Homo sapiens: one gene and its partners. The protein of the gene in region 2 interacts with the protein of the main gene of each other region in a biochemical or structural test. Each region holds a gene or a part of one and is shown on either strand. Other genes may lie near its edges. The genes, in order: ROCK1, MLC1 and MYLK.

What was found.
Region 1: of the proteins of MLC1 (region 2) and ROCK1, one has a biochemical effect on the other in vitro, tested with the Homo sapiens proteins (one study listed by BioGRID).
Region 3: of the proteins of MLC1 (region 2) and MYLK, one has a biochemical effect on the other in vitro, tested with the Homo sapiens proteins (one study listed by BioGRID).

What each region holds. Positions count from the first base shown.
Region 1 is NC_000018.10:20,945,540-20,956,416, reverse strand, and holds the end of ROCK1 (rho-associated protein kinase 1), read left to right. Parts: intron 1-1,171; coding exon 1,172-1,250; intron 1,251-1,372; coding exon 1,373-1,634; intron 1,635-2,631; coding exon 2,632-2,839; intron 2,840-5,029; coding exon 5,030-5,033; 3' UTR 5,034-9,511; downstream 9,512-10,877. UniProt on the Homo sapiens protein: Protein kinase which is a key regulator of the actin cytoskeleton and cell polarity.
Region 2 is NC_000022.11:50,068,427-50,076,394, reverse strand, and holds part of MLC1 (membrane protein MLC1), read left to right. Parts: intron 1-2,062; coding exon 2,063-2,179; intron 2,180-5,811; coding exon 5,812-5,868; intron 5,869-7,839; coding exon 7,840-7,962; intron 7,963-7,968. UniProt on the Homo sapiens protein: Transmembrane protein mainly expressed in brain astrocytes that may play a role in transport across the blood-brain and brain-cerebrospinal fluid barriers. Regulates the response of astrocytes to hypo-osmosis by promoting calcium influx.
Region 3 is NC_000003.12:123,607,515-123,617,175, forward strand, and holds the end of MYLK (myosin light chain kinase, smooth muscle), read right to left. Parts: intron 6,836-9,661; coding exon 6,591-6,835; 3' UTR 2,535-6,590; downstream 1-2,534. UniProt on the Homo sapiens protein: Calcium/calmodulin-dependent myosin light chain kinase implicated in smooth muscle contraction via phosphorylation of myosin light chains (MLC). Also regulates actin-myosin interaction through a non-kinase activity.

The DNA of each region.
Region 1 (10,877 bases), on a different chromosome or scaffold from region 2:
TAGTTAGGCCTATTGTGGTTGTGTCTGTACTTAATATGTACAGTTTTGTTTTTCTCTAAACAATATAATATAATAACAATTTCCATAGCATTTACATTATATTAGATATTATCTAGAGACAATTTTAAATATACAGGAAGGTGTACTTAGGTTATATACAAATACTACACCATTTCTTATCTTTTCTTTTTTTCCTGTCTCTTCCCTCCTTCCCTCTCTTTCTCTCTCTTTCTCTTTCACTCTCTCTCTTCAAAATCCTCCTGGGTCCTGGGACCAATCTGCCACAGATACCACGAGACAACTGCATACAATCATGTCATCGCCAAATAAAGAGTTTTACTCCTTTCTTTCCAATCTGTATGCCTTTCTCACGTGTATAGATTTGTATGACCACCACCACACTCAAAATACAGAACAATTCCATCACAAGTGTCCCTGTGCTACTCCTTTTGTAGTCAAAAGGCAGCTTCCTTCCTCCACCTCTCCCTAATCCATAGCAACATTAATCTGTTCTCCATCTCCATAATTTTGTCTCTTCAAGAGTGTTATATGAATGGAATCAAATAATGTGTAATCTTTTCTGATCAGCTTTTTTTCCCATTCAGTATAATTCCCTTAAGATCAATCCAAGTATAATTTGTTTTTTTCTTGTTGAGTAGTATTCCATAGTATAGATGTATCACAGTTTGCTTACCCATTTATTTGGGTTGTTTCTAGGTTTTGGTTATTATGAATAAAGCTCCTATGAACATCTATGTGCAGGTTTTTTTAAATAGATATAAAATGTTATATGAATTTTTGTTTCTTGAAATTAAAGGCCCAACAGTGCAATTTGCTGGGTTATATGGTAAGCATATGTTTAGTTTTCTAAGAAATTGCCATATTCTTTTTCCAGAGTGGCTGTGTAATTTTATGTTTCCATCAGCAGTATATGAGTGATTTACTTTCTCTGCATTCTCACAAGCATTTGATGTTACTACTGTTTTTATTTTTTTTAACTCTGATAGATGTGTAGTGACACTTATTGTGGTTTTAATTTGCATTTCTCTAATGACTGATGATGTTGAATATCTTTTTGTGTGCTTATTTATCACCCATATGTCCTCTTTAGTGAAATGTCTTTTACAATAAATGAGTTTTTGTAAATGGCCTGTATTTATTTTCATTTTAGTAAACTGTTTCACGTTAGACCTGTAACCCAAGGAGATGTGTATAGAGCTGAAACTGAAGAAATTCCTAAAATATTCCAGGTAAAAATCTGAAGTTATAATTTTAAAGAATCTAAGTCCTAAGCGTTTTTGTGAAGTAAATGTAAAATATACCAATGCTTAAGATTTTTAAAATCTTTTCCTTTCACCATTCCTGAATGTAGATACTATATGCAAATGAAGGTGAATGTAGAAAAGATGTAGAGATGGAACCAGTACAACAAGCTGAAAAAACTAATTTCCAAAATCACAAAGGCCATGAGTTTATTCCTACACTCTACCACTTTCCTGCCAATTGTGATGCCTGTGCCAAACCTCTCTGGCATGTTTTTAAGCCACCCCCTGCCCTAGAGTGTCGAAGATGCCATGTTAAGTGCCACAGAGATCACTTAGATAAGAAAGAGGACTTAATTTGTCCATGTAAAGGTAAGGCATGGTAATTATTGTTACAACTTATAACAAATTTAATTTTAAGTCTCAATGAACTAACTTATGTGTAGTGATTTCTATACCAAGTTGAAAAGAGATTATAGAAAGTATTATTTTGACACTGGTGGGGCAATATGCAGCTATTTACAGATTTAGCTTTTAAAAATGTTTTTATTTATTTTTATTGATTGACTGATTGATTGAGATGGATTCTCACTCTGTCTCGCCCAGGCTGGAGTGCAGTGGCGTGATCTCAGCTCACTGCAGCCTCTGCCTCCCAGGTTCAAGTGATTCTCCTATCTCAGCCTCCTGAGTAGCTGGGACTATAGGCGTGTGCCACCACACCCGGCTAATTTTGTATTTTTAGTAGAGATGGAGTTTCACCATGTTGTCCAGGCTGGTTTCGAACTCCTGACATCAGGTGATCCACCCACCTCGGCCTCCCAAAGTGCTGGGATTACAGGTGTGAGCCATTGCACGCCCGGCCAACAGTGTTTTTAAAGAGAATCACCCCCTTGTAAACAAACAAAAACAAACAAACATGCTGCTAAGAAATTATTCCAAGTTGGAGAGAAGAGCAACAGGTGAGTTCCACTCTATTCCTCCCTTGAGTTTTTCCTCTTCTTTTTGTCTGGCATTCACTGCCTGGATCAGCATGCATGCTGTATCACAGAATATCTTCTAGTTTTACAGAGGTAGCTTGAGGGAAAGAATACAGACCATAGCTATTTTCAGATAAGAAGCTTATGTTCTTTAAATACATTTATTTGTTTTACATTTTGTTATATTTCTGATTTTACTTTATTAGTTTGACTAATTTTTTTTTTTAATTTCAGCCTTATTTAACTTAAGGAGAATGAGATATTGTTCATGCTTAATTAAGCATATTAAAACTTTTAAAACCTTAAGAACTTGAAAAACTATGCATTTGATAGGTTGGATTTTAAAAAACTATATGGCTTTAATTATGCTTTTTTTTTCCTCCTTAACATAGTAAGTTATGATGTAACATCAGCAAGAGATATGCTGCTGTTAGCATGTTCTCAGGATGAACAAAAAAAATGGGTAACTCATTTAGTAAAGAAAATCCCTAAGAATCCACCATCTGGTTTTGTTCGTGCTTCCCCTCGAACGCTTTCTACAAGATCCACTGCAAATCAGTCTTTCCGGAAAGTGGTCAAAAATACATCTGGAAAAACTAGGTAAGGATTTGAAATGCTAACGTTTTTAACAATGTGAAAATGATTGGATAACAGCTATTAAAATCAGAAATCTAATTGTGCTTTTCACCACAGAGGGCATCATTTTTAGGTATTTGTATGTGAATTGCAGTGACTTTATAAATTAGTTTAACTTATTCTTGTTAGAGTTTAATAATAATAATACATGCAATATTATATTTATTTAGTTCTGTGTCTAATTTTATTGTCATAAGTTGCTGTACATGGCATAGTTTTAGCCCTTAATGCTTTAACCAACTTAATTTTTTTAATGCAGAAATTCATATAAAACTTTTCATCATCTTTTCTGTTTTTTAACTGTGTTGGCATAGTTTTTCTACAAAAACCAAAATTGTTTTTCCCTTTTTTGTTAACTTCCCATACTATCCCAACATACAAAATTATTTGGTATTATCAGTGACTATGTTTTTTTAATTATTATACTTTAAGTTCTGGGATATATGTGCAGAACATGCAGGTTTGTTACATGGGTATACACGTGCCATGGTGGTTTGCTGCACCCATCAACCCATCATCTACATTAGGTATTTCTCCTAATGCTATCCCTGCCCTAGCCCCCCATCCCTCGACAGGCCCTGGTGCGTGACGTTCCCCTCCCTGTGTCCATGTTTTCTCATTGTTCAACTCCCACTTACGAGTGAGAACCTGTGGTGTTTGGTTTTCTATTCCTGTGTTAGTTTGCTGAGAATGATGGTTTCCAGCTTCATCCATGTCCCTTCAAAGGATGTGAACTCATGACCCCCTTTTTTTTTTTGTTTTTTGAGACAGAGTCTCACTCTGTCACCCAGGCTGGAGTGCAGTGGTGGCGCTATCTCAGCTCACTGCAACCTCCACCTCCCAAGTTCAAGCAATTCTCCAGCCTCAGCCTCCCAAGTAGCGGGGATTACAGACGCATGCCACGCCTGGCTAATTTTTGTATTTTTAGTAGAGAGAGGGTTTCATCATGTTGGCCAGGCTGATCTCAAACTCCTGACCTCAAATGATCTGCATGCCCCAGCCTCCCAAAGTGCTGGGATTACAGGCGTGAGCCACCATGCCTGGCTGTTTAACTATTTTTGATGGACTTTTTTCCAAAAATATGTTTTATGCCATGATAAACAATTATAAGGCATAACCATTCATTCATTCATTCATTCATTCATTCATTCATTCATTTTGAGACAGAGTCTCGCTCTGTCACCCAGGCCAGAGTGCAGTGGCGCAATCTCAGCTCACTGCAACCTCTGCCTCCCAGGTTCAAGCTATTCTCCCACCTCAGCCTCCTGAGTAGCTGGAATTACAGGCACATGCCACCACGGCCTGCTAATTTTTGTATTTTTAGTAGAGATGGAGTTTAACATGTTGGCCAGGCTGGTCTTGAACTCCTGACCTCAGGTGATGCACCTTCCTGGGCCTCCCAAAGTGCTGCGATTACAGGCATGAGCCACCGCACCAGGCAGTTAACTCTTTCTTGGAGAGAAATAATGAAATCTCATCTCATTAAGTTCTCATTTTACACATTAGTAAATAAGGCTCAGAGAAATTAAGCAGTTTGCTCAATCACACAGCCAATGGATTGGAAACCATTTCTGTCCAATTCTAAAGCCTATGTTGTCCAATTCCAAAGCCTCTATTCTACCACATACCACCTTCCCTAGAGTGTACTCCCTAGATTAATAGGGCCACTCGAATTAGAAGCTGAGACCTAACACTGATTTGCCTCGCTGCCAATGTCACCTACATCTTCCAAGCAGGCTTAAAGCCATCTTGAATTCATCCCTTTTGTTCATGCCCTATTGTCAGTAACCAGGCCTAATTCTTTGAAATGACTTATATCCTTTCCTTTCTCAGCCACCATACTATGCCAGGTATTATCACCTTACTGCTAACTTAATTCTGTAGAATGCTATGTCAGCCTTCTCCTGAGCATAGGTTGTAAACTGGATCTAAAATGATTTGAAATGAGATTATAGCTGAGTAAGAAAATGTGTAGAAACAAAGAGGAGAGAATACTAAGTATATTTTTCCTATTCCTTGTTTTCCAAATTTTGTGTAATTGTTAATTATTTTATGTAAAGATAATGTATATTTACCTTTCCTCCTAATGTTTGTTTCTTGTATTTTTAAACTGAGTGCATTTCTTAAATTAGTTTTTTCCCCCTCCCTCAACAGTTAACCATGTGACTGAGTGCCCTGTGGAATCGTGTGGGATGCTACCTGATAAACCAGGCTTCTTTAACCATGCAGAGCAGACAGGCTGTTTCTTTGACACAAATATCACAGGCTTCAGGGTTAAGATTGCTGTTTTTCTGTCCTTGCTTTGGCACAACACACTGAGGGTTTTTTTTATTGCGGGTTTGCCTACAGGTAGATTAGATTAATTATTACTATGTAATGCAAGTACAGTTGGGGGAAAGCTTAGGTAGATATATTTTTTTTAAAAGGTGCTGCCTTTTTGGATTTATAAGAAAATGCCTGTCAGTCGTGATAGAACAGAGTTTTCCTCATATGAGTAAGAGGAAGGGACTTTCACTTTCAAGTGGAACAGCCATCACTATCAAGATCAGCTCATGGAAGGAGTAAAGAAAATATCTCAAAATGAGACAAACTGAAGTTTTGTTTTTTTTTTAATGACTTAAGTTTTTGTGCTCTTGCAAGACTATACAAAACTATTTTAAGAAAGCAGTGATATCACTTGAACTTCAGTGCCCTCACTGTAGAATTTAAAAGCCTTACTGTTGATTGCCCATGTTGGACTTGATGGAGAAATTAAATATCTTTCATTATGCTTTACAAAATACTGTATATGTTTCAGCAAGTTTGGGGAATGGGAGAGGACAAAAAAAAGTTACATTTAATCTATGCATTTTTGCCAAGCCATATTGAGTTATTTTACTACTAGAGACATTAGGAAACTAACTGTACAAAAGAACCAAGTTTAAAAGCATTTTGTGGGGTACATCATTTCTATAATTGTATAATGTATTTCTTTGTGGTTTTAAATGATAAAGACATTAAGTTAACAAACATATAAGAAATGTATGCACTGTTTGAAATGTAAATTATTCTTAGAACACTTTCAATGGGGGTTGCATTGTCCTTTTAGTGCCTTAATTTGAGATAATTATTTTACTGCCATGAGTAAGTATAGAAATTTCAAAAAATGTATTTTCAAAAAATTATGTGTGTCAGTGAGTTTTTCATTGATAATTGGTTTAATTTAAAATATTTAGAGGTTTGTTGGACTTTCATAAATTGAGTACAATCTTTGCATCAAACTACCTGCTACAATAATGACTTTATAAAACTGCAAAAAATGTAGAAGGTTGCACCAACATAAAAAGGAAATATGGCAATACATCCATGATGTTTTCCAGTTAACATAGGAATTACCAGATAAATACTGTTAAACTCTTGTCCAGTAACAAGAGTTGATTCATATGGACAGTATGATTTATTGTTTATTTTTTTAACCAAATACCTCCTCAGTAATTTATAATGGCTTTGCAGTAATGTGTATCAGATAAGAAGCACTGGAAAACCGATCGTCTCTAGGATGATATGCATGTTTCAAGTGGTATTGAAAGCCGCACTGATGGATATGTAATAATAAACATATCTGTTATTAATATACTAATGACTCTGTGCTCATTTAATGAGAAATAAAAGTAATTTATGGATGGGTATCTTTAATTTTTACTGCAATGTGTTTTCTCATGGCTGAAATGAATGGAAAACATACTTCAAATTAGTCTCTGATTGTATATAAATGTTTGTGAAATTCCATGGTTAGATTAAAGTGTATTTTTAAAAGATAAAACGTGGTCTTGGGCTCTAAAACAAGAGTGGGAATAGTTCACATGAAAAGCTGGCTAAAGTGTGTTGGAAAACAATTCTCCATGGGTCTCTTGCATTTCTACACATCAGGGAAGCAGAGGCTCTGACAACCTTTCTTTTGACTATCTTTTCCAAGGATATTTATGTAGTAAACAGCCTTGGAAGATAGAGTTCTCCCTTGTGAGGATGTCGGGTTCTTTTACTGTCCAGTATAATAAAGATAACGTCTCCCACCTATGATGCAAACCCACTGTGTGCTCAGCACCCACCTGGGCCACTCTGCATTGCCCACATGGGGCTTGGAGGGCAAAGGGAACTGATGGAACGTGAAACTTATGCTGCTTTTGCTGTGCTGTGAATGAAGTCATCTGACTCTGACCCAGGGGTCTCATCTCTTTTGTCAGGATCCATGAAACTGTGACTGGCAGCATGCAAACAGGATAAAATCTCAGCACAGTTCCTGACGGTGTCCTTACTACCTTCTCAGACTCATCACCATTACCTAATATTTTAAGGTCCAGTTGCAGAGAACAGAGTTAATTCTAATTAGTTTAAGCAAGAGAAGACTTTCCAAATGACATACTAATCTGAACTTAGAATTGTTGAGAACTGAGAGAGCTTTGAGGAATCACTCCCAATGCCACATTACAGAACTGGGTCAACCAGGAGAGCTGCTTCCTCTTCTAAGTTCAGGAAACCACTCACTCCCAAGTATACCAATATTGAGAGGGTCCAGATAGTGCCATAATCAGGAATCCACACTACCACTGCTGGTTCTCTGCAACACTTGTCAGGCTTGCTACAATCTACCTCCAGTTAGATGTTTTGTACCATTCCTCTTGCCACTTAAGAACCTCATGTCTGCACACTGCCTCAGAAAAGGCACTTCCATGACCCTGCTTGCTGGCATTTAGCACAGCCTGCATCTCACGTCTGCCTTCTCTAGGTGCATCTACGTGGCCAAAATTAAATCACATCCAGACCCCTAGCTGCAAGAAAGTCTGAGAAATATAGCCTCTAGCTTTCTCTCTAATTTGTTACAGGAGGACACACTAGGAGTGTGGAATGAAGGTTCAGCATTGAGTTAGCCCATGCACCCACACCTGTAAGCTTCTCTGAGATCAGGAACTCCAGCTTTGGGCAACAAAGAAAACATAGCCACTGTCATTATTCACAGGTTCACTCATGACCTGTCATTTGGGGTTTCAGCTTAAATTAACCCATTCACCCTTCATTTAAAGTAAAAAAAATAAGTAAAAGAACTTAAATGACAAACTCATAGTTACTTGAGTTTGTAATTCATAGTTAACTTTCACAGTTCTATAATCAATCTGGAATTCAGAGTGAGGTAGAGATCAAGCAGTATTTCTCCCATATGGATATTCAGTTGATACTGCAGTATTCATTGAAAATACTTCTTTCCTGCATCGTAATTCAGGTGAACAATCCATTGGTGTTATTTCTGTGTCCTTGCCAATATCACACTTTTAATTACTGTAACTTTATAATAAGATTTTATATCTGTAGTAGAAGTCCAACTTTGTAATCCCTCCCAATTGGCTTGGCTATTCTTGGCCTTTTGCATTTCCATATAATTTTTTATTTTTGTTTTGAAACGAAGTTTCGCTCTTGTTGCCCAGGCTGGAGTGCAGTGGCGCGATCTCGGCTCACTGCAACCTCCGCCTCCCAGGTTCAAGTGATCCTCCTGCCTCAGACTCCCGAGTAGCTGGGATTACAGGTGCCCACCACCATGCCCAGCTAATTTTTGTATTTTTAGTAGAGACAGGGTTTCACCATGTTGGCCAGCCTGGTCTTGAACTCCTGACCTCAGGTGATCCACACCCACCTTGGCCTCCCAAAGTGCTGGGATTACAGGCATGAGCCACCGCGCCTGGTTGCATTCCCATATAAATTTAAAAACAATCTACTGAAAGATGTATACGACCTCCACCAAGAAAATTGTAAGACATTTGGAGAAGTTTAAAAAGACATGAATAAACGGAAATGGTTTTTTTAAATAAACAAATGATTTTTAAAGTTGATCATTAGGTTAATAAATAGTCATATAATGACAATCCGATGAGATTATGTTGCCCAGGGTGGTCTCTAACTCCTAGCCTCAAGCAGTTTTACTCTCTCATTACAGGTGTAGGCCACCGTGCCTGGCCTGACACTTGGAAATCTTAATCACAATTATTCTTTGTTTTTATAATGTTTACTGTTCAAATCAATTTCTGGTTGGATAGTATGTATATATAAAGCCATGCTCAATGGCCTAGATATATTTACTGCCAAATCTTTTATGCTTTTAGTGTTTTTTTTCTGGACAAGATCTATGCTTATTGCAATAAATTAAATGCAAAGAATATTCTAGTAGAAAGTCAGTCTGCACTTCCTAAACCCCACCCCACCCCACCAATTCCTTCATAACTGTTATTAACAGTTAGCTGTGTTTTCTAATGGATTATCTCCAAAGTATATGTAACTCAGATTTTTGTGAGGTAGGAAAAGAATAACATTAATTCCACTTCACATATTGAAAGTCTAACATACAAAGAGATTAAATATCTCCTTTCTTTTGCCAAATGTTAATGAATTGTCTTATGAGAATTAAGATATGATACTTTCTCCCAAGCTATACTGTTTCCCATAAAGTATTTGAGATGTTGGAGATTCAAGGGAAAAAATATAAATGCTTAGAAATAAAGTGTATAATGCAAAGATTGTGAATAAAGTGACACTTGTATGTTAATCCTATAAATTGGTTTCTTGTACCATGTAGGATGGTTTGGCTATTAAATTGAATTAAGTGGTTCATTTGCCTGGATAACTGTGAGTGTAGAATCTAACTTTCACTTAGACTAGTTATTTAAGAAAGTCTACAACCGGCCGGGCACAGTGGCTCACGCCTGTAATCCCAGCACTTTGGGAGGCCAAGGTGGGCACATCACCAGGTCAGGAGATTGAGACCAGCCTGGCTAACATGGTGAAACCCCATTTTTACTAAAAATACAAAAACAAAATTAGCCAGGCGTGGTGGTGGGCGCCTGTAGTCCCAACTACTCGGGAGGCTGAGGCAGGAGAATGGCGTGAACTCACAAGGCGGAGCTTGCAGTGAGCCGAGATCACACCACTGCACTCCATCCTGGGCGACAGAGAGAAACTCCATCTAAATAAATAAATAAATAAATAAAGTCTACAACCAAATAATGTGGCAGAAATATAATATGGGCCCAGCTGGGTAAAAGGAAATATTTTGGATCTTCCTTCTACTTAGGCCGAATGGATGTTTCTGGTTTGTTTTGTTTTGTTTTGAAATGGAGTCTTGCTCTTGTTGCCAGGCTGGAGTGCAGTGGTGCGATCTTGGCTCATTACAACCTCCACCTCCCGGGTTCAAGCAGTTCTCCTGCCTCAGCCTCCCGAGTAGCTGGGATTACAGGCGCCTGCCACTATGCCCAGCTAATTTTTGTATTTTTAGTAGAGACGGGGTTTCGCCATGTTGGCCAGGCTGGTCTCGAACTCCTGACCTTGTGATCCACCCACCTCAGCCTCCCAAAGTGCTGAGATTATAGGCGTGAGCCACCATGCCCAGCCTGAATGGATGTTTCTTAGATTTACTCACTCTTGGCCAAGGTTTCATTAGTTCTGGTTGATGTAAGTTCTGTGCTGTGTGCAACACATTTGCTAACTCTGCTCAGGCCTAATTCTCATTCAAAATATGTCAATTAATCACAAGAGGGGCCATCTAAGAGTAGGCATAAAGGAGGTCAAAACTAGAAAAGAAAAAAAAATGTTTCCACTACGTTATTACCTCAAGATCTTGAAATTAAGATGTTTCAAGGTTAAAACGTAACTTTCACCTTTACAAAAAGTATCCTATTCTCAACTTTACAAGGTATTACCAACTATAGGTATTAACATCCCTACTTTATGATAGGACAATTTTATATGTTTAGGCCAGGCACAGTGGCTCATGCCTGTTATCTCAGCACTTTGGGAGGCCAAGGCCAGTGGTCACTTAGGTAGCTCAAGACCAGCCGTGGGCAACATAGCAAAACCCTGTTTCTACCAAAATACAAAAAAGTAGCAAGGTGTGGTGGCATGCATCTGTGGTCTCAGCTACTTGGGAGGCTGAGGTGGGAGGATTGCTGGAGCCCAGGAAGTTGAGGCTGCAGTGAGCCGT
Region 2 (7,968 bases):
TTAGTAGAGGCAGGGTTTCGGCATGTTGGCCAGGCTGGTCTCGAACTCCTGACCTCAAGTGATCCACCCACCCAGGCCTTCCAAAGTGCTGGGATTACAGGTGTGAGCCACCGCACCTGGCCTCTTTCTCCTTCTTACTTTCAACTTTTCTTGCCTTGTACTTTGGTATAATTGTTATAAGCAGCACGTAACTGTATTTTGTTCTTTATCTTGTCATTCTCTCTCCCTAGCTTTTTGAATGTAGCCCATTTCCTCTGAGAGTTATTACTGATAAATTTCTACTTATTTTTACCATCTTTTGAGTTTTCCATTTTCCCTGATTTTGCCTTTTTCCCTCCTTCCCTGCCTTCTTTTGAATTGGCAGAGGCTCCGTCCTTCCTTTTCCCTCTAATTTTGGATGGGAAATTTTTCAGTATTCTTTTGGGGGTTGCCCTTCATATTCTAATACGCTCCTTGATAAACAGACCATGCGGGGTCTGTCCCCCTTCCCTCCGCCTTGGCCTTGTTGTCTAGCTTGTGACATTTAGTGACATTTTGCCTTTTTACTCCAACAATGGGACAGCCTCCTGTGTGCTTGACTGTGTCTGTGTGTGTTTCCCAGTGCCTTCACTTCCCCTTATTTAGCATTTCAGTCCTCTCTTAGGTTCCATTTCCGTTCTGCTTCTTTTTTTTTTTTCCTTTTTTTTTGAGATGGAGTCCTGCTGTTGCCCAGGCTAGAGTGCAGTGGTGTGATCTTGGTTCACTGCAACCTCTGCCTCCTGAGTTGAAGCGATTCTCCCGCCTCAGCCTCCCGAGTAGCTGGGATTACAGGTGCCCGCCACCACGCCCAGCTAATTTTTGTTATTTTTAGTAGAGACGGGGTTTACCATGTTGGCCAGGCTGTACTCAAACTCCTGACCTCACGATCCGTCTGCCTCGGCCTCCCAAAGTGCTAGGATTACAGGCATGAGCCGCCGTGCCTGGCTGGGAATTCAGCTTTATTTGTGCATCTGGAGTTTTGTGCCTTCTGGACGCAAGGCCTGGCTGCCCAGGTCCCTTCCGGCCCCCAAGCCCTTGCTGGCCCACTCCTTATGCCTGGCTTTCCTGCTGGCCACAGCTCTGTGTTTGCGACTCACAGAGATCCTTCACGGGAGCAGGTTTTCGGGCGTGTGTTTCTTCCCCAGCCCTCCCTGAGTCTGGCGGTGCTGGTTGCGGCCCCTCCCTGAGTCTGGCGGTGCTGGTTGCGGCCCCTCCCTGAGTCTGGCGGTGCTGGTTGCGGCCCCTCCCTGAGTCTGGCGGTGCTGGTTGCGGCCCTGATGGTGCCGGGCAGATGAGTCCACAACCAGGGCTTAGGCCAGCAGGGTTCTTGGCTTTGTCCAGGAAAGAATTCAAGGGCGAGCTGGAGGTGACAGACAGCAGCTTTGTTTGCAGTGGCAGTATAGCAGGGCTCTCCAACCGGCAGGTGCCTCGAGCAGCAGCTCAGAGACAGCTCTGCCTCCTATTTATACCCACTTTTAAGTATATGCTAATTAAGGGGCAGATTATGCAGAAATTTCTAGAAAAGGGGTGCTAACGTCCAGGTGGTTGGATCATTGCCACGGAAAGGGGTGGTGACGTCCAGTGTTGCCGTGGCAATGGCAAACCCACATGGCACGGGTGGGTGTGTCCTATGGGAAGCTACTTCTGCCCCAGGCCTGTTTTCCCGAGTCCCTTCGATGGGGTCCAGGGTCTGAGCACCGCCGCCTGCCACACTGTGAGACAGGGAAGGGAGTCTGAGGGTCTTGGTTTTCTGCCCTCACCACTGTCAGGTCAATACCCTCAGTTTCTGTGGACAAAAGCAGCAGTGGGGGAAACACCTCTTTGGCTATTTTACTCCAGGAGGGACGTGAAAAGCCGCAGCTGAGGGCAGAGGGGGTCTGGGCCAGGTGAGGCTGGGGGTCCATCCAGGTGGGCTCCTCCACGGTTAGATCTGGGGCCAGCCCACTGGACCCTGCTCCTGGGGGTCCATGTCTGCACAGTGCATTCTGGGAATCTGGGGGTGTCTCCACTTCCTTATGAGCCGATGCTGTCCTGTCCCCTCCAGGTCGTCGAGGTAATCGCAGGCATCTCTGCCGTCCTCGGGGGGATCATTGCCCTGAACGTGGATGACTCAGTTTCAGGCCCACACCTCTCAGTGACGTTCTTTTGGATCCTAGTGGCCGTGAGTAACCCCTCTGGCCCGCCCGCCGCCGCTCTGGGCCACACTGCTCAGATCCTGCGTGGCTGGGCCCCGAGCTCAGTCTTGGTGCATTCAGACAGAGAGTCACCACAGAGGGTCCTCGCTGGCCCCCAACTTCAGAAGAACTGGGGAGTTAAGGATTAAATGAGTCAAAGTATTAACTGCTTTTATATTAGTTTGTGTGATTATTTTATATTATTTTTCCTGAAAAAAATACCAATTATTTTTATTATTCTAATCTTTTTAACATATGAATGTCAGGCTGTAGATGTTTATTATTCTATATAATTTTCTAATATATAATGCATTTATATTACACTATGTGTTTCATACAATGCAGCATATTTCTGTTATTACTTTACATTAAATGTTACTGCAGCAGATGTGTCACACAGCACCTGACACATGCCACATGCTCAATACATGGGCATTGTTTTATTTATTTTATTTATTTATTTTTTTGAGATGGAGTCTCACTCTGCCACCCAGGCTGGAGTGCAGTGGCTCAATATCACCTCACTACAACCTCTGCCCCTCCCCGGGTTCAAGTAATTTGCCCACCTCAGCCTCCCAAGTAGCTGGGATTACAGGCGTGGACCACCATGCCCAGCTAATTTTTTTGTATTTTTAGTAGAGACCGGGTTTTGCCATGTTGGCCAGGCTGGTCTTGAACTCCTGACCTCAAGTGATCTGCCTGCCTCGGCCCCCAAAAGTGCTGGGATTACAGGTGTGTTCCCTCAGAACAGTGAGTCTAGAGCAACCCCTCCACACCCCAGATCCCCTCACAGCCTGTAGCCCACCCAGAGCCACCACCCACCTGCCTCCGGACGCAGACCCCACGAGGTTCTCAGCACCTTGCCGCGTAGTGGCCTGCACACCGGTGTTGACGGCCAGCCCCTGGTTTGTCTCATGCTGTGTGGACTTTTAGATTTTGCCCCTGCTCTCTTATGTACATGAGCAGGAATGGTGAGCACCCAGCATCAGCTACAGGCTCCTCCTGGGCAGCAGTGGGGCTCTTCCTGAAGCTGCCGAGGCCCATGCCTGCCTGGGAGCAGTATGGCCAGGTGGACTGCCGAGAAGGGGCCCACGCCTGCCCGGGAATGGTATGGCCGGGTGGACTGCGGAGAAGGGGCCCACGCCTGCCCGGGAACGGTGTGGCCGGGTGGACTGCCGAGAAGGGGCCCACGCCTGCCAGGTGGACACATCCCATTGGCAGCAGCTGTGTTTCAGCTCCCTGTGGGGGCGAGTAGGCACAGAGCAATGCCCCCAGGGCACCAGTGCCCGACCTAGTGGGCTGCTGAGGCGCTCAGAGAGGGAAAGAGACCCAGGCAGGACCGAGCTGGGATAGAGCCACACCCCCGGAAGGGGTAGGACCAGGCCCAGCTACTGAGACAGAGAACTCACATGGGTGCCCACCCAAGCGGGTCTGTGACAGAGAGAATGACGCCTGCAGGTGTGTACAACTGACCCTGGGGTCTGAAACGCAGGGATTACATCCCGAAGCTGAGGGAGGACAGAGACCACATACCTCCAAAAAGTTGAGAATGAAAGGCACTTGCCCTACCCCCTTCCCTGTCCCTGCAGTCAGCCCTCATCACAGAGGCCCCTCCCATCCCGCAGACCCCTCCTGCCTCGGGGGTGGCTCTGCTCTCTCCATCTTCCCGGAGAGCACCCCCTGCCCATCAGGTGCTGCCCCCTGGGCGCCCCTAAATCCACCCACACTCCCAACCCTCTCTTCAGGGCAGGAGACCCCAGGAGGAGAGGAGAGCGCTGAGGCATGCGTGGTGAGGGACCCAGCTCCACCTGCCTGAGTCTGGCCTGGGTGCGGCAGAGGGGCCCAGGCCCTGCACCATGGGCTGGAGGCAGGTGCTCGGGGCTGGAGTTGGGGGCTGGGCTGCAGGCCTGGACCCTTCCAGGGCAGGGCCCTTGATTGAGCTGCCCCAGCCCCTATGGCTGAGCTTCCTGGCCCTCTAGGGCAGGGGCCGGAGTGGCCATGCTGGGTGAACGGGGAAACTCCCGCCCTCCCATGGCTCACTGGGGCCCTGAATAGGCCACCCTGAAGCCACCATCCCTTCCTGTGCCCTCACTGCTGCTTACAGCTAGAAGGCCCTTTCAGAAGCACCAAGCCCAGGAGAGACCCCTGTATTGACACCTCAGCCTCCCTGGCCAGGGCCACACCCACCTCAGCAGCTGGCTTGGGGCCTTTGCACTGGCAGCCCCTCAGCTCCCCAGTCTTCTCCCTGCTGCCCAGGCTCCCCTGCTCGGAGCCCATCTCTGTCCTGCCCACCCTCTCACCACAGCCCCTGGCTGATGCAGCCCCCTCCCCAGCAGGCCGGGCTGGGGTGCTGGCACCTGGACACCTTCGGGGAGATGAAGAGGATGAAGAGCATGCATCCTCCCTCTGCCTACATTGTGCGGAACTAAGGCAGGCTCCTCACAATAAGTGGGAAAAGGGCATTTCTTGGTTATAAAAAGGAAGAGGTGCCCATCCAACAGAGGAACCTACAGATCCCCCTAACCCAGTGAGTCAAGTCAGCGTCATCAGGAAGGGGCAGTCCACACCCTGGGGCACTGCAGAGTCTCCTCCGAGGCTCCCCAAGGCTCATCATGAGGAAATCCTGTCCCACACGGAGGCCCGACTGCAGCTGATGGGCTGCACCCCCCAGAAGCGACCAGGTAACGGAGGTGACAGAGGCTGAGGGACTCCCCGATTAACAGGGACCCACAAGGAGACTACGAGCTCAATGGCAGACCGAATCCGGATCAGGAGCAAACAAACAAACAGCTCTAGAAATAACATGACCAGGGCCAGGTGCGGTGGCTCATGCCTGTAATCCCAGCACTTTGGGAGGCCGAGGCGGGCGGATCACCTGAGGTCAGGAGTTCGAGACCAGCCTGGCCAACAAGGCGAAACCCCGTCTCTACTAAAAATACAAACATTAGCCTGGTGTAGTGGTGGGTGCCTATAATCCCAGCTACTCAGGAGGCTTGAACCTGGGAGGTGGAGGTTGCAGTGAGTCAAGATCGCGCCACCGTACTCCAGCCTGGGTGACAGAGCAAGACTCCATCTTAAAAAAAAAAAGGAGAAGAAGAAAGAAAAATTATTAAAAAATTAAAAAGAAAGAACATGATGAGGACAACTGGAAGAATCTGGGCATGGACCACATCGGCCCCACGTGGAGTCTCTCGAGCGTGGTCCTGCTTTGGGTGTGTGCAAGAGTGTGCCCTGGGCTCAGCCAGCACTCTCAGGTGTTCAGGCATCAGGCTATCTGGGAGAGCTGGAGAGAGCACAGATATGAATGTCAAGGACTCTGGTGATTTTGGGGCCTCAGATGCCCCCTCCACTGCTCTTGCAGCTTTTCTACAGGCTTAAAATTTTAAACCAATGGTTGAGGAACAGAGAGCACACAAAACCTCTGAGAGGCTACCCCTGCTTCCCTGCGGACCCGTCCCTGCCCCAGCTGCGCCTTTGGGCACTGCACCATCCCCCCTGCCCCCCACAGCAAGCCAGCCAGGCAGCCTGCATGGAGGGGTCACTGGTGGGAGGGCACATGTTTGGAATTCGACTTCTTCGACTATTTCCTCTAAAATCTTTCCTTTTTCTTTTCTCTTAGTGCTTTCCAAGTGCCATTGCCAGTCATGTGGCAGCAGAGTGTCCCAGCAAGTGTCTGGTGGGTGAACCCCTCAGCCCTGGGTGCCAGGGACCCACCGAGCGGGGCCAGGGCCTGGCCTAGCCCTCCCTTGGTGCCATGTGACCAGGCTCCAGCCCAAGAGAGCGCAGTGACTGGGCTGCAGGGCCTGCACAATGAGGAAGGTGGGGTTGTGGGAGGTGGAGGCTGGCCCGCTCAGCAGGGACTGTTCTCAGGGACAGGCAGACCTGAACAAGGTGGTGTAGACACTGGAAGCGCTCTCTGTGCCTAACCCTTGGAAGGAGACCAGTGTCTGAGCATCATCTGCACCTCCTAAGGCTGGTCGATTGTTTTTTTTTCTTTTTTGAGATGCAGTCTCGCTCTTGTCCCCCAGGCTGGAGTGCAATGGCACGATCTTGGCTCACTGCAACCTCCGCCTCCCGGGTTCAAGTGATTCTCTTGCCTCAGCCTCCTGAGTAGCTGGGATTATAGGCGCCTGCCACCATGCCCGGCTAATTTTTGTATTTTTAGTAGAGACGGGGTTTCACCATGTTGGCCAGGCTGGTCTCGAACTCCTGACCTCAGGTGATCCACTCACCTCAACCTCCCAAAGTGCTGGGATTACCGGTGTGAGCCACCACGCCCGGCCGAAACTGCCACAAACTGACCGCAAACAATTGAACTGGTCGATCGTTAATGACTGCTGCCAAAATGTGGACCCTGAGTGCTTTGCAAGGTGACTGCCCATGCTTGGCATGAGTGAAGGCTGTCTCTGAGACTTGATGGGTCAAACAGGAAGATTTGGGGTGGGTTAAAAGGACAGACTTCAGAGCAGTGAAGGAGGTGACCCATGCGGAAGGGCTATTTTTTCAAGAGTGGAGAATTGCAGGTAAATGTTTTTTGTTTCTTGGTTTTGTTTGTTTGAGACAGAGTCTTGCTCTGTCACCCAGGCTGGAGTGCAGTGGTACGATCTCAGCTCATTGTAACCTCTGCCTCCCGGGTTCAAGCGATTCTCCTGCCTCAGCCTCCCAAGTAGCTGGGACTACAGGCATGCGCCACCACACCCGCTTAGTTTTTGTATCTTTAGTAGAGATGGGGGTTTCACCATGTTGGCCAGGCTGGTCTCGAACTCGTGACCTCAGGTGATCCGCCCTCCTCGGCCTCCCAAAGTGCTTGGATTACAGATGTGAGCCACCTTGCCTAGATGGTAAGTATTTCAAAACTTGTGGCACTGTGCTGTGAATGAAAAGGCAGGCTGCTCATGCCTGTAATCTCAGCACTTTGGGAGGCCAAGGTGGGTGGATCACAAGGTCAGGAGTTGAAGACCAGCCTGACAATATGGTGAAACCCTGTCTCTACTAAAAATACAAAACAATTAGCCAGGTGTGGTGGCGCATGTCTGTAATCCCAGCTACTCAAGAGGCCGAGGCGGGAGAATTGCTTGAACCCAGGAGGCAGAGGTTGCAGTGATCAGAGATTGTGCCACCGCACTCCTGCCTGGGCTACACAGCTAGGCTGCCTCTCAAAAAAGAAAGAAAGGCAGGCCGGGCGCGGTGGCTCATGCCTGTAATCACAGCACTTTGGGAGGCCGAGGTGGGTGGATCACCTGAGGTCAGGAGTTCAAGACCAGCCTGACCAACGTGGCAAAACACGGTCTCTACTAAAAATACAAAAATTAGCTGGGTGTGGTGGCGGGCGCCTGTAATCCCAGCTACTCGGGAGGCTGAGGCAGGAGAATCACTTGAACCCGGGAGGCGGAGGTTACAGTGAGCCAAGATCATGCCACTGCATTCCAGCCTGGCGACACAGCGAGACTTGTCTCAAAAAAAAAAAAAAAAAAAAAGAAAAAGAAAAAAGAAAAGGCAGAGGTTTCAGCAGGAGTCATGCAGGGAACCAGCTTGGGACTATGCCCATGAGTGCCCGGCCATGCCCGCCCCCCCAGCCCTGGCCACGCCCGCTGTCCTGGGCTCCCAGGCTCCGGCCGTGGTCCTGCAACCCGCGCTTTTTTTCCAGGTGGAGGTCCTGATTGCCATAAGCAGCCTCACGTCTCCGCTGCTGTTCACAGCCTCTGGATATCTGTCATTCAGCATCATGAGAATCGTGGAGATGTTTAAGGATTACCCGCCAGCCATAAAAGTGAGT
Region 3 (9,661 bases), on a different chromosome or scaffold from region 2:
ACTATATATTTTATATTATATATACTATACATTTTATATTATATATACTATATATTTTATATTATATATACTATACATTTTATATTATATATACTATACATTTTATATTATATATACTATATATATTTTATATTATATACTATATATTTTATATTATATACTATATATATTTTATATTTTATATACTATATATATTTTACATTTTATATACTATATTTTATATTATATATATATTTTATATATAATATATAAATATAATAATATATTTTATATATAATATATAATATAATATATATGATATATAGTATATATATTTTATATATTATATATAATATATATTTTATATATTATATATAATTTTACATATATAGTTTATTTATATATATATATATATATATATATATATATATATATATATATATATATATTTTTTTTTTTTTTTGGGGACAGCATCTCGCTCAGCCACCCAGGCTGGAGTGCAGTGGTGTGATCTCGGCTCACTGCAACCACTGTCTCCCGGTTTCAAGCAATTCTCCTGTCTCAGCCTCCTTAGTAGCTGGGATTACAGGCACCTGCCATCATGCTCAGCTAATTTTTATATTTTAGTAGAGACAGGGTTTCACCATATTGGCCAGACTGGTCTTGAACTCCTGACCTCAGGTGATCTGCCCACCTCGGCCTCCCAAAGTGCTAGCATTACAAGCACGAGCCACCACACCTAGCCTCCCACCAAATATTTTTCATCTCCAGTTGATTGAATCCATAGATTTGGAATGCATGGATACAGAGGGCTGACTGAATATAACTTTTTCACATATTTGGGGTTTTTTTTTTCCTGCAGAAATGTAATCTGTTCTTTCAGAGTAGAGATTGTTTCTGATACATCTTAGCATCTCTGAGTGCCAGAATGAGGGCGTACCATAAGGTCAGGCACATAGAGCTTGTTTAATCTTTCTATCAAGCCATGAGTGAGGAACTACTATAACTCTAATTTTATAACTGTGGAAACTGAGGCACAAGCTACACAGCTGTAGTAAGAGGTAGAGGTAAGAGGTAGTAACTTATTTTACAGAGGGAATGAAAATGGTGGGTAAGTTGGACAAGTTGGTTCCTAGGATAGCACCAAGAGGAACTGACTCCACTGATTAACCAGGTTAGCTGCCTCCTACCCAAGCACACTGCAGGATTTGCCTTCAGTGACAACATGCAAGGTGCTTTCTGGAGAGGCATATCTGGGACTTCATGGAGCTTGCAGAATCGGTTGTATGGCTGCTGGCTAATAGGTGTTTGACAAGTTTGGCCTGAGACTATCTTTGAAACATACCACCTGAAGCGTGGTTGTGGAGAAGCCCCATAGCTCAATCTTATCTTAACTATTGGAGGCTACTGATACCTGCCTTAAAGATGTTATTAATAATAAATATGAATGACCAAATTGACTTAGGTTAATTTGTAACCTCCTTCTCCCTTAGTTATCTCCAGCCGAAAGAAATCTAGTCTAAGAGAGTCACAAAATATCTTGTGAAAATTTACCACAGGCCTCAAACAGAGACTCGGGGGACTGAAGTCTCTGACATGAAGCGCTTCCTGCAGGGTATAAGCATTTGGAACACGGGTAAGGCCTATGGGCTAAAATCTCCAGCCAGCAGCGGTTAGAAATTCAATGTTGTCCCCAAGCACTTTAGATCTCCTGAGTGTTTTGAATTCCAGTGGGAAGGGAGTTCTGATAAAAGGCAGCTGAGTTTGGAAGGATTGTAGCCTCAGGATGGCTCCTCTGCCTTTTGACCCATGGTTGAGGAAATTCTGCCTCAGCAGCCCTGTCTCCCTTTCTGCATCCATCTCATAGTCCCCACTGGTGATCCCCCATCTCAAGTAGCAAATTCCAAAGACGTTGGAGAATGTTGGCCTTGTTGGTTGTCTCATATCAGAAATAATCTGAGAGTTGCTTGTGAATTGCAGGACTATTTAGATTTTGAGGTCAGAAGCATAGAACTGGTACTTTTTTTTTTTTTTGAGATGGAGTCTCACTCTGTCGCCCAGGCTGGAGTGCAGTGGCGCAATATCCGCTCACTGCAAGCTCTGTCTCCCGGGTTCATGCCATTCTCCTGCCTCAGCCTCCCGAGTAGCTGGGACTACAGGCGCCCGCCATCACGCCCGGCTAATTTTTTGTATTTTTAGTAGAGACGGGGTTTCACCGTGTTAGCCAGGATGGTCTCGATCTCCTGACCTCGTGATCCGCCTGCCTTGGCCTCCCAAAGTGCTGGGATTACAGGCGTGAGCCACCGCGCCTGGCCAGAACTGGTACTTTTAAAATGTCTTTTTATTTTTTAATTAATTTTTTTTAAAGAAATAGAGATGGGGTCTTGCTATGTTGTGCAGGCTGGTCTTGAACTTCTGGCCTCAAGCGATTCTCCTGCCTTGGCCTCCCAAAGTGCTGGGACTACAGGTGTGTACCACTGTACCCAGCCTTTAAAATGTCTTAAAAAGTGAAAAACTATATTTGAATATAAATAAAGAATTAAGAACAACAACACTTGAGTATCGAGACTATATTATCCAATACAATTGATGAAACTATAGACCATACTCTCTAGACTTTCACACAAGCTTTTCAGTTTTAATTTCACATAATTTGAAAAGTGATGTACATGTGACTGTCGAGCATTTGAAATGTAACTCATACAACTGAGGAACTGAATTTTTTATTTTATTTTTTAAAGTAACTTAAATTTAAATAGCCACTTGTGAGTAGTGGCTACCATCCTGGTCACCACACATCCAGAACATGGTGATAAGCCTGTATCAGGATAGTCTAGGTTATGTTGCAGCCACTGAGAACCCCAAAATCTTGGTGATTTATAAGAACAAATGTTTATTTCTTGCTTGTGTTATGTCCCCATTTTGGGTTGGCTAGAGACCCAGATGGCTGCAGCAGCCACCATCTCATGTGTTGCCCGTCATTATGGAGAGGCTTGTACCAGCACATAAATGCTCTGGTCCCGAGGGTACATACATCACTTCTGGTCACAGCTCACTGACTAGGACTAGTCACATGGCCCCATCTAACCAGGAAGCCGAGAGTGAAGCCCTAACTCTGTGCAGAGATCCTTAGCAACAACTGCCACCAACATTAGCCCCCCCTTTCAAATTACAGGAAGGAGTCCCAAGGGATAAAGAGAGTAGTGCTACTTGTGTTTTCTTGAAAAATGGAGAATTGGGTTTCTCACAACTCAATTATTTATTACCTCCTATGTACTTATTAGCACAGATTTATCAAAAACAGGTGAGGTGTGGAGCAAAAAGCAAATTTCAAACATTTTAACAAAAATAAAAAATCTTTACATAAATTTAGAGCTGACAACAGTCAGCATGTCTTATTAGTTGCATGTAGGAAATATCTTTTAATAAGATATGCAATGCAAGGAACAATCAATGGATTATTTTTTATATGTTTGGGATGAAAATGAATGGAAGAAAGTATATCTGTTATTTTTCTCAGTGCAGCATATAAATTGTACATTTTTCACTAGCAAGGAATAAAAAGTCATTTTCTTTAAAAATAATAAATTGTTAGGGACATTTGTGGATTGTGAGTGTCTTAAAAATGAAAACACTAAATATTTATTAACTGGACAATGGATTGTTTCTTTCCAGACTACATCAAAGAATCAGAGAATTATCTAGCCCTACATTTAACAGCATGTCTTAAACTCTTTCTAGACCATCCACAATATTGTTTGAACATCTGAAGACATGGGGAACTTGCCATCTGATATCTGATAACAGACTTCCTGTAAAGCAGGACTGGTAGTTTCCTGATAACAAATTCTTCAATATGAAGGTATGGATAAAGCATTTGGCTGCCAATAATGAACTGCACCAAAGTCACCAATTCAAACCATGCCCTGGTAAATAGTATCATCAGTGATGATGATGATGATGATGATGATAATGTCACATGTTAAAAATGTCATATAGATTTTAGCATCTTGAGGACCTGATACTCTGTAACAGTGGTCCCTAACCTTTTTGGCACCAGGGACCACTTTCATGGAAGACAGTTTTTCCATGGACCAGGAGAGGGGGTGGTTTTGGGATTATTCAAGCACATTACATGTATTGTGCATTTTATTTCTATTATTATTACATTGTAATAATATATTTTATTATAATATAAAATAAGTATACAACTCATCATAATGTAGAATCAGTGGAAGCCCTGAGCTTGTTTTCCTGCAACTAGACTGTCCCATCTAGGGGTGATGGGAGACAGTGACAGATCATCAGGTGTTAGATTCTCATAAGGAGCGTGAAACCTAGATCCCTCACATGAGCAGTTCACAATAGAGTTCGTTCCTGAGAGAACCTGATGCTGCCGCTGATCTGACAGGAGGCAGAGCTCAGGCGGTAATGCGAGCAATGGGGATCGGCTGTAAATATAGATGATGCTTTGCTCACTTGCCCACTGCTAACCTCCTTATGTGTGACCTGGTTCCTAACAGGCTACTTACCGGGGGTTGGGGACACCTGCTCTATAAGATATCCTTCTAGAATGATTGATATAGTACTAAGCTGATGCTCAAGAGAAATTTTGAACTAAATGTGTAAATTCGGCTACCTATATAAACAAGAACTTCCTAAATCATTCTGTTCCATAGCAAAACACAACCACATAAGCCAGTTCTTCACATCTAGGCACCACAGTGTTTGTTTTTCATTTCCAGGATATAGCTGTGTCCTTTACAACTGGTAGCATGGAAAGAAAGAGAAGTCTGCAAAGATTGAACAAACAGCATGCACTGTGGTATCCTTTATTTAAAAATTGTGAGCTGACTACAGTTGTAGTGTTCTCATTTACCATTCTGATGGCATAATAAACCAAGAGAACATTAACACAATTCCAAGAAGGCATTAACCTGTAACACACATATACGCCACACATGCACACACACAACATACACGCACACAAAGGTTATATTCTGAACACAAAAGTGATAGAAAAAAGCTTTGAATGCGCTAAATCAAATAAAAACCCTTTATTATAATAAACTGTGGCAATACTGTGGCTATCATGAAAAATATTGTAACTATTTTAAAAGCAAAAGGAAAAATACTGGCAGTTTGAAACTAGCAGCAAAAAGCAGATAAAAATAGAATGGAAGATAACATAAGACTAATATCAAAATTCTAATGTTGATACTGTGTAGGATTGCACTGAAGTAATTTTAAATTGGTTCTTAAGGAACTCTTAAAAAGTCCCTTAAAAATATTAAATTGTTGCACCTTACAAACAGTGGAAAAGAAAAAAAAAGTATTTGGAATGTTACACACACACACAGAGGAAATGTATTAGGTCTATCATCAATTATGGTCTTTGTTTATGACCTTCAAAAAGCTTTATAAAGAAAAAATTTAAGTGCCAATGTAGTGAAAGAAAGTTAAAAATTCCTAAAGACGCAAGTCTGAGTGCATTTACCAGGTCTAAGAATATATTTAAAGGTTGGGGGCAAGGCATGATTGATGCACATTTAAGAAGAAAAATATGGAACCCATAAGGTAGGTCAAGTTCTTTGGAGAGTGTTGAGAATGAAGATGTATTAAACTCTGGCTATCTTGGAGGAGATTCCAAAGTACATGGAGTTCTCCAGCTCTTTATCAGTTGAAATCTGTTTCATCGTGGCCAATAGATAATTAAGACTAACTTTTCAGCAAACTGATTTCTCCTATATTCAAACACAAAAATCTTTACCACACGTTCAGAGCTGATATTCTATAACAGCACAAATAAGAATCCTGGTTTACAAAGGAAACCACATTAGCAAGGATTTTTTTTTTCCCATGGGTTCTTAACCAAATGTCTGAAGCTGCTAGACATCTGCAAAGAGGGGATAAGTTTAGATTTCCTACTGATTTTGGAAGAAAAATATTTTCCTAAGGAAGCCAGAGTCATCCATGAGCAGGGACCTGTCTTCAGAATCGAAGAAGCATAATGTCCTTAATGCTTACACTCATGACAAGTTGAGAGTCAGCAAAACTGGCAGGTGGAAGGGGAAAGAGAAATGGAGAGTTTGAACATCTGCAGTGTACTTTGGAATAAAGTGGCTCAACTGCTTTCAGAAATGAATTGCTGGAGTACTGGGAGAAAACCCAGTTCTCTAGAGTCAGGGGGTGGGGAGAGAGAGGCCTCCCATCCCCAGGAACCCTCTGGGCTGAGCTGTGGCCCAGAACTCTTGTTTTGGCCTTATTTTTCATGAGCGCATTCAAGTGGAGAATTTATGACTTTGCCCAGATAAATATTTGGTTTGGTTACTTTCTCTCTAAAATCAATTGGTCAGTCAAGTTACTGGTGATTTCCCTAAATGAAATCTAGCTGCACTAGTATCTTAAGGTGCCAACTAACATAGATTAATGCCCATCAATAACGCTGCTAGGTATCAACTGCTGTTTCTGAAGAATCAACCCACAAATGACCTAACCGATAATCTATCACACTAGGTGCTTTTACTATCTTGAGTTTTTTTTTTTTTTTTGAGTTTTAGAGAAATAGTCCTTTTAATATGACTTAGAAACTGCTTTTCTCTGGCTTTGTTTCACTCTTCTTCCTCTTCCCCTTCCCCTTCACCTTCCTCCATCGTTTCCACAATGAGCTCTGCTGTGCAGGTGGCTTCTCCAAGACTGTTGACAGCCTTGCAGGTGTACTTGGCATCGTCATCCCCGCAAACATCACTAATAATTAAAGAGCAGTTCCCGTCCTCATCGTAGTCTATCTGGAAGTGGCGGGACTCCCTGATTGACTGGTCATCTTTGAACCAGACAACCTCGGGGTCTGGGTATCCTGCATCACAGGGAGAGAACACAAGTTGCAGGAACTGTTATTCAAAATTTCTTATCAACTCATGCAAGCAACTTGTAAGCTACCACTATTGATTAAGGTGGTTAAGGAGAAAATTTTGATGTTGGCCTTTATCGACTGTTTTGATATCTACATTAGAATATGGACATGTCTTGTAAATACCAATATCTGAAACCCCAAATAGAATATTTTAAAGTTGTTCCATTTCCCACACATGTTGGACTAGCACCACATCCCACCTATTAAAAAACTTATTTAATAGTTTTTTTATTTTTTTAAAGTGATGAGTCTCACTCTGTTGCCTAGGCTGGAGTGTAGTGGCATGATCGTAGCTTACTGTTGCTCAAATTCCTGGGCTCAAACGATCCTCCCTTCTCAGCCTCCTGAGTAGTGAGACTATAGGCATGAGCGACCGTGCTCAGTTAAACATCACACCTTTCACTTTTTGGGGGGTAGGGGGGCAGGGTCTCATTCTATCACCTAGGCTGGAGTGCAGTGGCATGAACATGGCTCACTGCAGCCTCAACTTCCTGGGCTCAAGTGATCCTCCTCCCTCAGCCTCCCAAGTAGCTGGAGCTATAGGTACATGCCACCATGCCTGGCTAATTTTTTAAAAAGTTTTTTTTTTGTAAAGACAGGGTCTCCCTATGTTGCCCAGGCTGGTCTCAAACTCCTGGGCTCAAGTGATCCTCTGACCTTGACCTCCCAAAGTGCTGGGATTACAGGTGTGAGCCACCACACCCACCCATCTTTAAACAGACATAGAGTACTACCTGAGGCTAGGCATGGTGGCTCATACCTGTAATCCCAGCACTTTGGGAGGCCAAGGTGGGCAGGAGTTCAAGACCAGCTTGGCCAACATGGCAAAAAAATAAAAATTAAAAATAGAGTACTACCTGAAATACTGCTCCAATTCCAACTCTACACCTAGATCTGAATACCTTCTTAGATTGAAAATACAATTTTCTTTTTCCTTTTTTTTTTGAGACAGAGTCTCACTCTGTCGCCCAGGCTGGAGTGCAGTAGCGTGATCTTGGCTCACTGTAACCTCCGCCTCCTTGGTTCAAGTGATTCTTGTGCCTCAGCCTTCTGAGTAGCTGGGATTACAGGTGCACGCCACGACACCCGGCTAATTTTTGTATTTTTAGTAGAGACAGGGTTTCAGCATGTTGACCAGGCTGGTCTGTATCTCCTGACCTCAGGTAATCTGCCTGCCTTGGCCTCCCAAAGTGCTGGGATTACAGGTGTGAGCTACCTGTGCTCGGCCGAAAATACAATTTTCTATCTTTTTTTTTTTTTGAGACAGAGTCTCACTATGTTGCCTAGGCAGGAGTGCAGCAGCATGATCTCGGGTCACTGCAACTTCCAATGTCCAGGCTCAAGTGATCCTTCCACCTCAGCCTACTGCATAGCTCAGACTACAGGTACACACCACCACACCCAGCTAATTTTCGTATTTTTTGTAGAGATAGGGTTTCACCATGTTGCCCAGGCTGGTCTTGATCTCCTGGACTCAAGTGATCTGCCTGCCTTGGCCTTCCAAAGTGTTGGGATTACAGGCGTGAGCCACTATGCCCAGCCTAAATTTTCAATTTTGTATAATAGTTTAAGTGAAATAATTTAAATGAAAAATAAGAGTCAAAACAAAATGGGAACAAGGGATCTTTTTGGAGTGATGAAAATGTTCTAAAATTGGATTGTGGTATAAATTCATTAAAAATAATTGAATTGTGCATTTAAAATAGGTGAATTTTATAGTATATAAATTATAACTGAATAAAGCTAATAACAGCTATATAAAACATAATTTAAAAGAGCTGATAATATTGCTAAGAAGAAGAAAGCAATATTTGTCTTAGTCTGATCCAAAGCAGGTAATTTGCCTATGGACAATTGGAAATGGACCTCACCAATGAGCCTTTATGCATTAGTCATATCTCTGCAAAGTTCAGCATTAAAAAATAAAATACACATGCATATAAAATATATATTATATGTATTTAATGTGTATGTGTACATATATATGTACAGAAGCATTACCAACATTATGCATTTTGTTTGCAGGTACATAGTATATACATGTACCCCGCTTTTAAAGTCATATATATACATACATTTAAAAATATACAATATATTCCACCTGACTTTCTCTTAAATGTTGGTGAAGTATTTTTATAGGAAAAAAATTGTAGCCCTGATACGGTTTGGATATTTGTGCCCCTTGAATCTCATGTTGAAATGTGATCCCCAGTGTTGGAGGTGGGGCCTGGTGGGAGGTGTTTGGGTCATGGAGGCCGATCCCTCATGAATGTCTTGGTGCCCTTCCCGAGGTAATGGGTGAGTTATTGCTCTGTCATTTCATGCGGATCTGGTTGTTAAAACGTGGCACGTCCTTCTCTCTCGCTCTCTCACTTGCCATGTGACATGCCTGCTTCTGCTATGATTAAAAGCATCCTGAGGCCTCACTGGATGCAGATACTGGCACCAAGCCAAATAAGCTTCTTTTCTTTATAAATTTTCCAGCCTCAGGTATTCCTTTATAGCAATGCAAACAGGCTAATATGAGCCCTAACCAGAATAAAAATTATACATAAGAAATCAAGAATTCTAATGTTCTTTTCAATGTTGTTTTTTCAAAATAATTTTAGAAATTGTTTTTTCGAAGTAATTAGGAACACCCAGACCATGAGGAAAATTGGGTCAGGAAGAGCTGGTCATAAAGTACCCTCCACTCCCATGCCCTGCACCCTCAGTGCAAAAGTTTCAATTTTGTTTTTATCAAAACAGCATCCATATGCTTTAATTTCT